Linked DNA regions of Homo sapiens. The protein of the gene in region 1 interacts with the protein of each later gene in a biochemical or structural test. Each region holds a gene or a part of one and is shown in the gene's direction. Other genes may lie near its edges.

Region 1 (9,952 bases):
TTACCAGGAGGTTCCAGTGCATTTTTCTAAATCTAACAACATACATGGTTATTTATGTTCCTAAACCATTTCAGAAAAATTTTCTCTTTTCCGTTGCCAACTTATATCCATACGATTTGGAGGATAGGTTATTTTCAGGTTTACTTTCTTGAAAGAAAAAAATCTTCATTCCTACATTCCATACTTCTGAGGTTCCCCTTAAGCAGAATAAGAACCGTAGTGCTAGAAGACATACGGTCCAAATTAATTACGATATTATTTACTCAAAAAGAGGCTGTGCCAGATTCCACATGGATATGGATAAAGAACTCCATTTTTTCTCTCTTTTCTCTCAAGAGTGTAATTTAAAAAAAAAAAGTACCAGCCACATAGGAAGGCTACTCAAAGTATGCATATTGAGTAGCATCGTGCTCTTACTGGCTCAAATTTAGATTTTTCACCCAAATAAACACAGAAGAGCATGACTGTTAGGTACTGTAGGCCAAAAGGACAAACACTGAAGTCTCTTGTCAAGTTTATTTTATTCATTCTATGATGTACTCTCAGTACTTTTTTTTTTTTTGAGACAAAGTCTCGCTCTGTTGCCCAGGCTGGAGTGCAGTGGCACCATCTTGGCTCACTGCAACCTCCACCTCCGTGTTCAAGTGATTCTCCTGCCTCAGTCTCCAGAGTAGCTGGGATTACAGGCATGCACCACCACACCCAACTAATTTTTGTATTTTTAGTAGAGATGGGGTTTCGCTGTGTTGGCCAGGCTGGTCTTGAACTCCTGGCCTCAAGTTATTCACCTGCCTGGGCCTCCCAAAGTGCTGGGATTACAGGCCTGAGCCACCATGCCCGGCCCCTTATTCTTTAATACTTTTGTAAAATGGCATTTTTTTTCTGACGTTCACTCTAGTTTATCTAAATAATGCCCAAGTGCGATACTATTTAGACTATTCTAAATAATTTAATTTATAAGCTTTGCAAATGGAGAATAATCACATGATTATCTGATTAACACTGTGCCCTGTATAGTGCCTACCTTCTCCCCACATGAAATTTTAATCCAAAGAGTCTTGAATATATACTCTTATCACAAGAAAAAATTTGTTAAAGATTCTAGCATGATATACATGTTGCCTTTGGATATCCTTTAGGTTTAGAAAACAAATAACTTGCCTGTAGAGATATATAAAGTGACTTGAATATTTTAAGTTAAAATAACCAAGTATTGAAATACAAAAAACAGCCCTGTAAATTTAGAGATGTTAATATTTATCTGGCCCTGACTAGAGTTTAACTCCAAATGCTAGAGAAATCAGTCTGGTAGGTGTGGTCAATGTGGTGACTAGGGGTTCGGGAAACTAAGGAGCACTAGTAATCAAGAGCTAAGCATTTCAAATTGGGGTCTGTTTCAAATAAAAGTTATTAAATATTACCTAGAAATAATCACGCTTATTAATAAACAGATGCTTGACAAACGATGAATATTTCTCACCACCACAAAATCTAATAACTTAATTTATCCATCAAAGGGTTGTATTCTGTTGCCTACACTTTCCATACACTGACTCCAAATTTCATAAAAATAACTGTTTTAAAGAACCTGCTGAGGGCGGGCACAGTGGCTCACGCCTGTAATCCTAGCACTTTGGGAGGCCAAGGCAGGTGGATTACCTGAGGTCAGGAGTTGGAGACCAGCCTGGGCAACATGATGAAACCCTGTCTCTACTAAAATACAAAAATCTAGCTGGGCATGGCAGTGTATGCCTGTAATCCCAGCTACTCGGGAGGCTGAGGCAGGAGAATTGCTAGAGCCTGGGAGGCAGAGGTTGCAGTGAGCTGAGATCGCACCACTGCACTCCAGCCTGGGTGACACAGCGATACTCCCTCTTTTAAAAAAACTTGTTGAGTGTTCTGAGGAATTATCCTTAGACAGCATCTTGCTTCTTTGCTATGCATGAAGAAAAAGATTTCCTAGTCCCTTCTACACAGTTAGCAGACATTTTTTAAGACTTTCAGTAAAAATTTACCATTTTATTTTTCAGCGATCATATTGGAAATATGGCCCAAAGTGACTTCCTTTACCCAGAGAACCCAAAAAGGCGGGAAGAAGTAAATCGTCTTCACCAGCAGCTTCTTGATTGCTTATCTGACAGCTTCGATGTCACCAATAAGCTGACTGAGGTTCTAAATATGCACTTGGGGTGCAGGCTGGCCTCCATTGAGATGAAAAGAGATGGGACCATCAAAGAAAACTGTGACCTCATCATCCAAGCCATTATGAAAATCCAAAAGGAATTGCAGAAGGTTGATGAAGCACTAAAAGATAAGCTAGAGCCAACCCTCTATAGAAAACTTCAGGATATTAAGGAAAAGGAAACAGACAAAATTGCAATAGTGCAAAAGGTTATTTCGGTCATCCTGGGAGAAGCTACATCTGCAGCCAGTGCAGTCGCTGTTAAACTTGTGGGCTCAAATGTCACAACTGGCATAATTAACAAGTTGGTCACTGTGTTAGCTCAAATTGGTGCTTCTCTCCTTGGTAGTATTGGAGTTGCTGTTCTTGGCCTTGGCATAGATATGATTGTCCGTGCCATCCTGGGAGCAGTGGAAAAAACACAGCTTCAAGCAGCCATCAAAAGTTATGAGAAGCATCTGGTGGAGTTCAAATCAGCCTCAGAAAAATATAATCATGCCATTACTGAGGTCATCAATACAGTGAAACACCAAATGAAATGAACAGCCGTTTTATTTGCCACTGAAGTGTTTTTCTGCTTCCTTTTCAGTAACAGTGTTTGCTTCTTTGATTAGGTTCATTTTCTATAGGCTTCCAATATGGACTTAAATAAGATAAACAATTTGGAGAGGGAAACTGGAGATGCCAAGACTAGATGACTAGATGAGTTTTGAGTCAACAATGCCTGGATCAGCTGATGCTAGACCCTGTGAGGTAAAAAAATTTTCTCCCTGGATGTTTTCACACCCTGCTCTACCAGATCAACATTGGGGTAAATGCTATCGTAGAGTAGCAAGTATAGGGGTTACTTTTCTCTTTTCTAATTTCAGTAAAATTCTTAAATTTCACATTGAATGCAGAGACTTTCATTTCTACCACCAGCTTCAAACATCATTTAGTTATAAGGGGACATACTCAGTAACTTCTGCCTAGACACAAACTCTAGGCCTTCGAATGAGACAGAAATACTACCATATTTTTGACCATCAGAGTAAATCTGGTTTTCTGTAAACTAGAAGAGACTGAAAAATGGTTTGTAACAATGTGCTTCAATTAGGACAGGAAGCTGATCTGTAAACGTCTACTGATTACACAATGTAAACCGGATGGATTTGAAAATGGTAAAAATCAAAACTAAAAACATCAAGGTCCTGTTTCAGTCACTGCAATCAACCCTGACCAACTGTGATAATTAAATATCGCTCAAGTGAATGTTCAAACACTGAAACATTTAGAAGACAAGAAAGCAAAACACAGCTACACATATTGCATTTAGGATGCAGAATAGAAGGTCACTACTCAAAGCATTTGTCATTTAAAAGAAAGTCATAATTTATTATAAGCTTTCAGAAAAAAGAATATAATTTCATTTTCAACACTAGCAAAAAGGAGGCAGCTGCCTTTGCTACATGACGCATTAGGTGGGCCATTTCACTAATTACCTGATTTTAGAAAACGCCAAAGGCTATGGAAGCCTATTAATGGTTCCGCTGAATCTCTGCAGATGTGTTTGTTTTCTAAATCCTTTGCCAACCAATAATTCCCATGAGGACTCTTTTAGTCTATACTGACAAAATTATTAATATGCTGTTGATGCCAGACTGTGTTTGTTATAGTTGATTCTCCCATCCAAGTACAAGAAATGTATTGAAATAAAAACTGCTCAGCATATCTTAAAAATAGTAGCTACATATAAAATTTTAGCTACATGAAAGACTTTAATATTTCCAACATACACTGTTTTCTCTTTCTCTTCTTGCATTGTTTTTCAAAACGAGTTGCAAAACTATGATCACTAATGTGTTAGGAAAGAAAAAAAACTAGTTGCAAAACATTACAACTTAGCTCACCTTCGCAGTTCAAGATTATTTTCTTTTTTATGTACTACCTGGTTTATCAGCTTTAACCTACAATATCTCGTCATTGCTTTCTGACACTCAAATTCAGTCTAAAATCAAATCAAGAATTTCCTAACACAAAGGTAAGTTTAGGTATAGGACCGATCTTATACCTTCAAGGGCAGTTTAAAGATTCTGCTAAAAATTAGTATGTATCTCCATCAATATTTTGAAATATTTATAACTGGTGGTAAGAATAGCCTTCCTACATGGGATAGTCAGGTTAAGATTAGAAATAACCAAGCGTATCCTCTAAGATAGTTTTTTAAATGTTTAAACTTACCTTTAAGGGAAATAAGTGGGGGCTGACTCACGGAAAGAGGGGATAGAAGGTAGGGAAAGGGCGAAGGCTAGAGTTAAGTGAAGAATCCCGTACGTAGAGTGACATCATAGAGGACTTTTGGCTGGTGAAAAGACCAGTCGGGAATATAGCCAATATATATCAACCTTGCCACTCATATAACTTAAAACCGACTGCATATGTATCCCCGTATTTCTTCTTCAAAACACTACTAACAAATAATAAATCACCGCCCATATAAGCAATCTGCGACTCTAATACGGGTGCTAATTTATTTGTTCAGGTGGTCTACAAACGTTCTGTTCTGCCTGTCTATTAAATTTCCACACGTACTAGGCGCTCACATGGGATAACCTGATGCTTACAAAGCGGATTAAACTCAGTGGCAAATGTTATCTGGGTATTCGTTTACACACGGAGACACCCCTAAAGGATCGCACCTGCTTGGGTCATAAGAAACAGAAAAATGCAAAAACTAAGGTAATTCCAAAAGACAGAAAACGCAGAACGCTTCTTTATCTGCAGAATGTACCGTTCTCGGACGGCTCAACGTACCAGGCTCCCAGCAACTAAGTCAAGATGCCTCCAACTCGAGAGACAGGACCGTCAGCCACTCAGTTAGCAGCTATCTTCTTCTAATTCCTATTGTACTAGATGAGCGCAATGAGGCGGGCTCTTAGCCGACAACCAACCAATTGAGTATTGTATGGAACCGGAAGAGACTCTGGTCCTGGAATTCTTGGGTATTCTCTATGGTTCCAGGGTCAAGCGGCGCTAAGAGAAGGCGGGACAGAGGAATGGGAAATGACGTGAGGAGTGCGGAGGGGCGCGAGGTTTCAAGATGGCGGTAGCTGAGGGGTTGACCGAGAGACCCAGTTGAAGGCCTTTACGAAGTGAAAGAGGCCGGGAGTCGCCCCCTACCCGCTTCTCGTAGTCCTGGGAGCACAGCAGAAGTGTGAGTGTATTGAATTGATTTACTACTCTTCCTCACCTCTTTCGTCCCTTCCACGTCCCGCGCAGCGGCTTGGGGGACACCCAGCCCCTTTGCCCCGCTCCTCCTCTCCCTGGTTGAGGTCTCCCTGTTGCGGACTGGGCTATTCCTGGGCCTGGGGTGGCGCGGCGACCAGTGGTTGCGCGGTTGGCATCGCCCGGGTCGGTTGGGGCCGCTTCTTACGCACGTTGATTAGTAGCCTTAGGTTTGACGTCTTGTACCTCGAGTCATGGTCGGTCAGCCGTCGCTATGGTTTCGTCAGTTGCTGGTGTTGCCTCCTTTGGTGAACCTGGACCCTATCCCATTGAAGCTTCTTTGGCTGTTTAGAGTTATCCAACGCTTATTTGGCTTGATTTTCCAGTCGCCTCCGCTTGTAGACAAAAAACTAATCTGCAGACTTAAGCTCCAGTGTCTTCCGTAAAATTCTCTGTAATTCGTATCCGTTGTGTTTCATTTGTGGGGGAGGAGATTCAGAACATGAGCCTGAGGAAACTTGAGAAAGGAAAGCACAAAAAACGCAGGCAATCAAAGATGGGAGAGCTTGTATATGTACTGATTTTGCTTGTTTTCCTCCTTCCCTACCTCCTACTCCCTGCTGCTCTCCCACCCCCCTAACCCCCCCATCCCCAGTTTTTCTTAGAAGGAAACCACTTGACAGGGTGTATGGTAGCTAGGCCAGGAATATGGATCCATTATAAAGATTTTAGTTAAGTAGTGAGTCAAACATCACAGGATATTTTATTTGTAATCTCATTGTATCATCAGAGCTTTGTTATAAAGTAATTGATGTCCCCATTTTTTAGATGAGGAAGCTAAAAATCAGAGCCTTTGATACCGCTGTCTTGAAGTAATTGCCACCAGAACAGCTGTGAAACATCTGGCTTTCTGAAACATCTGGCTTTCGGGGCAGTTGGACACTTGGTGAAAGAGACATTAACTGTAATAAACTGGGCTGACAAAATCTTCCCTTTCTTACCTTTAAAAAGTGTCTACTTGCAAAAGGAAGCAAATTTGTCCGCCTTTATTACTGGAAAGACTGCGCTTCAAAAAATTAAGCCCCATTATTTTGGAATAAGAGGAAGAAGTCATGTAATAGGGTACTGTGTTAATAAAAGTTTTAGCTTACAAAATATTTTTTCCTCAAACAAAAATAAGTATTCCCTTTAATTACCTTAAGAAATATATATTGGGAGTCAGGTCTTAGTAAGAAAAATATGTGTCTTAATATTTAAGTTTTGGGGAGCTCTCAGTATAGCACTAATTTCAAATATTTGCATTTTTAGTTGTGTTTTGAACTCTTGAGAGTCAAGCATTATATCTGAACTAGAACTGAATCTGAATTAAATATGCTTAAATTAATGAGTTTTTAGTGTCTTAGAAGTATTGAGAATGTACAGCATACATGCCAAGAAAAACCATGGAGAGAGGCAAAGGTGAGGTATGTGTTTTGAGCCTAGATCCATTACCCCCATTCCCTTCTTATTCTTCTTTTACAATTACATGTTAATAAAGGGAGGTTATAGAAGAAGGACTAATGAATTCTGATGTTCATGGTTTGTGCCATATCGTTAAAGCATTTTCTAGTTGTTTTTATCAGTTGACAAAGTCAGTGCTGTGATCCATAAGAAAAAAGCTAAACTGATGACTTGAGGATATTCAAAGTGGTCTTCACACTCATCACATTTCTGAAGAATGATAGAGATCTAAATTTTCATGGTCAAGAAAGGTGATGCCATCTTTCTTGGACATTAAAGTCAAAACTAAGGAAAGAACAGTCTCACAGAATTTCTAATTAAAGGAATTTTTTTTCAGAGATTGGTAGGGACTAGAAAAAGGAAGAAATACATTTAGGAGATATAAGCTATTTCTTTGTCTTCACCTTCACAGGTTTTTCTTTTTTTAATGAACAAGTAAACCATACAAATTGTCAACATGGGACGGAGATCTACATCATCCACCAAGAGTGGAAAATTTATGAACCCCACAGACCAAGCCCGTAAGTGTCCATTAGTGTGGAATGATGAAGTAGGAGAGTGTTAAAAATTGCAAATATTAGGGAATTTCTTTCTCTGTGGCTTAATTACAAGACCAGCAGTGATAGGAGGAATAAATTATATATTCAGGGTTTGTATGGGCACATTAAGACTTTAAATATGCAAAGAAATTAGTACCCGTATTTTATTTTTCAAATTTGATTGACTTGCAAAGTAGAATTGGCTGAAATCTTTCTTTTTATATTGGAAATTTTGAGCAAATTAGTTTTGCGAGCCCTTGTTTCGCGTTTTATGTTATGTTTTTCCTTCAGATTCATAGTTGTTTTTTATGAAACATTAAACAAAAATGTCTTGACATTTTTGGTTGTCATAATTAGAGGGATGCTCTTGGCATGTAGTGGAGAGAATCCAAAGATGCTGCTCTTTTACAGTGCATACTGTAACTTTCCACAATAAAGAATTACCTGTATTAAATTGGAGGAAATGCTAATGTTCAAGATTCAAAGATTTTATTATATCTCCCTCTCTCCTTTTAAAGGAAAGGAAGCCCGGAAGAGAGAATTAAAGAAGGTATGATTTTAGAGGCATCTTATAAAACTTTAAGTATTGTTTGGTACATCTTGTGATTTGGGATTAGTGGGTTTCAGAATAACATTTCTAATATTTTCTAGAAAAGGTACTTTATGCTTTTTATAAAAACTGTAAGATATACTAAGCCAAACTTTATTTAGGAACTGAAGTAACTTTGCAGAGAAGCTCACTACAGGTTATAATGCCATTGTTTGATTACTTTTCCCAGTGAGTTAAAAAATACTTTTGAAAATAATTCTTTTTTTTACTCATTAAAACATAACTGTTTTAAAGTCTACTGATGAGGATGGAAATAAACATGATGCTAGATAGCTTTATCCATTTTCCTGATTAGCTGTCTATTACATATATTACATTAGCTTAAATATATATATGTAGGTTTATAATATTTATAGATATATTAGATTTATATATCCATTTTCCCAATTAGCATTCTCCTCTTAGCTGTTGAATTTGTGGCAAAGTACTTCAAAAGAATTAGAAAGGATTTGCCTTATAGTATTGTGCTTTATAGTATTATAGTATAATACATTGAAGCAACACAGATTTTAAATAATGTTCGATTGTGTTTTCATGTTTAGCATTAACTCCTGCAAAATTTTTAAATATTCTTTATATAATTTTAGAATTTAGCTTCAACCTTTGCTTTGGACTTCAACTAGCAGAGGTTTTACAACAGGGGGCAGGAACAATCACCCAAGGTCTTCAAGAACATAAGGGGTTAAAAAAAAGAAATTTAAAGTGTATGTGTGTTTAAGTAACTGCTAAAGATCTCAGAGTTCAAAGAAATACTTTACTAAGAAAGCACATCTTAAAAATAGCATTTCTTTATCTTTTTGACAAGTGTAAACATTTTTAAGGCAAAAAATTACATAGCTGTTTCTGGTGGTTGAAACAAGTGATCAGAAGCCAAGGAGTTATTCTGTTTAGATTCTTAAAGCAAGTTGAAGTAAAACTCCTGAGTGCCTGACTTCTTGACATCTGCCCTTTTATTTTTCTAAGAACAAAAAACAGCGCATGATGGTTCGAGCTGCAGTTTTAAAGATGAAGGATCCAAAACAGATAATCCGAGACATGGAGAAATTGGATGAAATGGGTAAGAATTTACAAACAGGCAGCTATAACAGTCTGACACGTACAGAGGCAGGCAGGTAACGAGTGAAGCAGCATAGGCGTAAGTAAAACAGAACAGCATGATGGCATTTGATGCTTGGATTTAATGTTAGTTTCAGGGAGACAAAATGGAGTGCTAGAGGGCTGTTGCAAACTGGAGACCCCAGATACCAGAATAAGAGGGAAGCGATTATTTGGCTTTCAGTTAATTGTTATTGTGAGATAACAGAAGCACAGTTTGGCCAGCTTGCTTTTTGGGAGAAGACTTAATCTGATTTATGAAATAACCTTGGGTTTTTTGTTTGTCGTCTTTTATTTAATGTTGGCAACTACCATGTAAATCTAAGTATTAGGCCCCTGTGAATATAAGGCAATTTCCAATTTTTCCAATCAGAAGATCCAAAAAGATACTTATCCATTTAGTAAGGATATAGAAAAAAATCATCAAATACCTAAAAACCAAATAATAAAATACTATACCAGGATTCTCTGCCTTTTTCACATTTTATAGAATAGTTTTATTCACTCTTCATATGCATTTTAAGTATCGCTGCTTTGTTATAACTGGAATCACATGAAATAGCTGCATGTTATCTTTTTTTGCATCTAAGTTTGAAAATCATTGATGTTGCCACTGGAAATTTTATCCTAACCCACAAATATCCATTCTGTTTAATATTAGAACATGTAGAATATTTTGTTTTTTTAATAGAAATTTTCAAACATGCAAGAAAATAAAATAGTCTAGTTAACTTCCATGTGCTTTTCACCTGTCAAGTTTCTGCCACTTTGTCTTCTACCCTTTGCCACTTTTGTAAAATAGCATTTTAAAGTGATCGTTAC
Region 2 (2,714 bases), on another chromosome or scaffold:
AAACCAGATAGCTTTGGCTAACAGTAGAACTCATCATCTGAACCCAGACACAGATTTAGGTAACCTTTTTTTGTAAACCTCCTAATATAGAGAGTTGGATTTGGAATGTGAAAGATACTTCATATTCTTCCCGGCACACACACACACGTGTCTTTTATGTGTGGCTTGTGTGAATGTGAGTGCGTGTCTCTAGGCTCTACATGTAGGATGAGGTCCCCTGGTCCTTATCTGCTCTCCTCATCCCCACCTTGTTCTACCAGAACCAGAGGAAGAGATCATTGCCGAGGACTATGACGATGATCCTGTGGACTACGAGGCCACCAGGTTGGAGGGCCTACCACCAAGCTGGTACAAGGTGTTCGACCCTTCCTGGTGAGCCTGGGTGAGGGGGAGCTAACTTCTGGCTTCACCCTTCCTGTGCTGACCTTGGTTGTGAGGTTTAGGGGGACACAAGGGAGGGAGCCTCGGGTGGAGGGTGTTGGCATTAGGTATCTGCAGGACTCAAGTTGCTGCCTGCTGGGGCCTGGCTCCTCTGGGGTTGGAAGACTGTCTTTTCTCTCTTTTTTGAAACGGAGTTTCACTCTTGTAGCCCGGGCTGGAGTGCAATGGTGTGATCTCGGCTTATGGCAACCTCCGCCTCGTGGGTTCAAGCGATTCTCCTGTCTCAGCCTCCCAGGTAGCTGGGATTACAGGTGCACACCACCACACCCAGCTAATTTTTGTATTTTTTGTAGAGATGGGGTTTCATCATATTGGTCAGGCTGGTCCCGAACTCCTGACCTCAGGTGATCCGCCTGCCTCGGCCTCCCAAAGTGCTGGGATTACAGGCATGAGCCACCACGCCCAGCTGACAGTGTTTTCTCTTCAGGAGAAGAGATTCTGGGGATCCTGCCTGTGGGGTCCTGACATGGGGCAGGTATAGGCAGAGACTGGGGAGACAAGAGTTGAGGATCCAAGGCAAGGACATCTGTGCTGACACTTCTTTCCTGCGGCCCCACAGCGGGCTCCCTTACTACTGGAATGCAGACACAGACCTTGTATCCTGGCTCTCCCCACATGACCCCAACTCCGTGGTTACCAAATCGGCCAAGAAGCTCAGAAGCAGTAATGCAGGTGAGTTGGCAGGTACAAGCGTGCCTTGAGTGATCTTAGCAGTTCTCACGGAGAGGCCAAGTAGAATGATAGTGGATCAGAGGGGCAGGTGAGACCAGGCGGGCCCAGCCTCAGGCAAGGGAGGTTGTTGAAGGCAGAGGCTGCTGGGTCCTGGGGTGGCAAGAGGTCACTTCAAGACTTGTGTCCCCAGATGCTGAAGAAAAGTTGGACCGGAGCCATGACAAGTCGGACAGGGGCCATGACAAGTCGGACCGCAGCCATGAGAAACTAGACAGGGGCCACGACAAGTCAGACCGGGGCCACGACAAGTCTGACAGGGATCGAGAGCGTGGCTATGACAAGGTAGACAGAGAGAGAGAGCGAGACAGGGAACGGGATCGGGACCGCGGGTATGACAAGGCAGACCGGGAAGAGGGCAAAGAACGGCGCCACCATCGCCGGGAGGAGCTGGCTCCCTATCCCAAGAGCAAGAAGGGTAAGCTGGGCAGAATGGGGCTCGGTGAGACCAACAAGGTGCAGGGTGCACTGCGTGAGGAAGCCTTCCCTCAAAAAGATGCCTGGACCTGGGGCTAGAGGAGGGTGCTGTGGTACATGGCAGCCAGGGGCTTCATTTCTTCTTGTGGGGTGGGGCTCAGTGATCAGGGGATCCTGGTGCCTCTATTGAAGACTTTGCCCTGCCACTTCCACAGCAGTAAGCCGAAAGGATGAAGAGTTAGACCCCATGGACCCTAGCTCATACTCAGACGCCCCCCGGTAAGTGACAACCCCTCTTGACTCAGTACGTGGACACCATCCTCCGGCCTCCTTCCTCCATTCCTCATTGGGACCAGGTGGGCTGTGTCCGCCACATCACCCATCCCCATCCCCTGACTCTTTCACCGGCAGGGGCACGTGGTCAACAGGACTCCCCAAGCGGAATGAGGCCAAGACTGGCGCTGACACCACAGCAGCTGGGCCCCTCTTCCAGCAGCGGCCGTATCCATCCCCAGGGGCTGTGCTCCGGGCCAATGCAGAGGCCTCCCGAACCAAGCAGCAGGATTGAAGCTTCGGCCTCCCTGGCCCTGGGTTAAAATAAAAGCTTTCTGGTGATCCTGCCCACCATACCTGAGTGCTTCCTTTGAGGCTGCCCAACCCAAGTCGGCAAGATACACAACACATTTTATTTGCAAAAACTCAGCTAAGAGATAGTGTGGAGCTGGCAGGGGCTGGGGGGCTGAGCTGAGGTGGGTCATGAGAGAGCTTAGTCATGTTGGCCCTGGGTGGGGCAGGGGTGGTGGGGACAGGGAGTCCAGTGTCTACCTCACTCTACCCCTAATACTGATCAGAGTTTGGTCCCAGCTGGGCCAAGGGCAAGAAGAGAGAACGAGGCCAGGCCAATGTCTTCAATCCCAGCGGCTAGGAACCCTTCACCTTGGTGAGCAACCTGTGGTGGGAATGGGGAGGAAAGAAAAACACAAAGCTGGGCTAGGCTGGCAGGCGGGTTTCCTGAGCAAGTGAGGGCGGCGGTGGTGAGGCTGGTAGTCCTGGGGTTAGTAATGGTGCCCACCTGGTCAGAAAGCTACACGTGGACTAAATAAATACAACATCTTTATTTGGCATTG

Evidence for each region. Proteins that work in one complex are often made in the same cells at the same time.
Region 2: the proteins of WBP11 (region 1) and PQBP1 form a complex in vitro, tested with the Homo sapiens proteins (2 studies listed by BioGRID and IntAct, with this or other methods).

Annotation. Positions count from the first base shown.
Region 1 is NC_000012.12:14,798,775-14,808,726, reverse strand, and holds the start of WBP11 (WW domain-binding protein 11), read left to right. Parts: upstream 1-5,248; 5' UTR 5,249-5,375; intron 5,376-7,298; 5' UTR 7,299-7,343; coding exon 7,344-7,407; intron 7,408-7,943; coding exon 7,944-7,975; intron 7,976-8,998; coding exon 8,999-9,092; intron 9,093-9,952. Other genes in the region: SMCO3 (single-pass membrane and coiled-coil domain-containing protein 3), read left to right, coding at 2,047-2,724. UniProt on the Homo sapiens protein: Activates pre-mRNA splicing. May inhibit PP1 phosphatase activity.
Region 2 is NC_000023.11:48,900,930-48,903,643, forward strand, and holds the end of PQBP1 (polyglutamine-binding protein 1), read left to right. Parts: intron 1-260; coding exon 261-372; intron 373-1,000; coding exon 1,001-1,113; intron 1,114-1,303; coding exon 1,304-1,588; intron 1,589-1,802; coding exon 1,803-1,866; intron 1,867-1,998; coding exon 1,999-2,155; 3' UTR 2,156-2,214; downstream 2,215-2,714. UniProt on the Homo sapiens protein: Intrinsically disordered protein that acts as a scaffold, and which is involved in different processes, such as pre-mRNA splicing, transcription regulation, innate immunity and neuron development.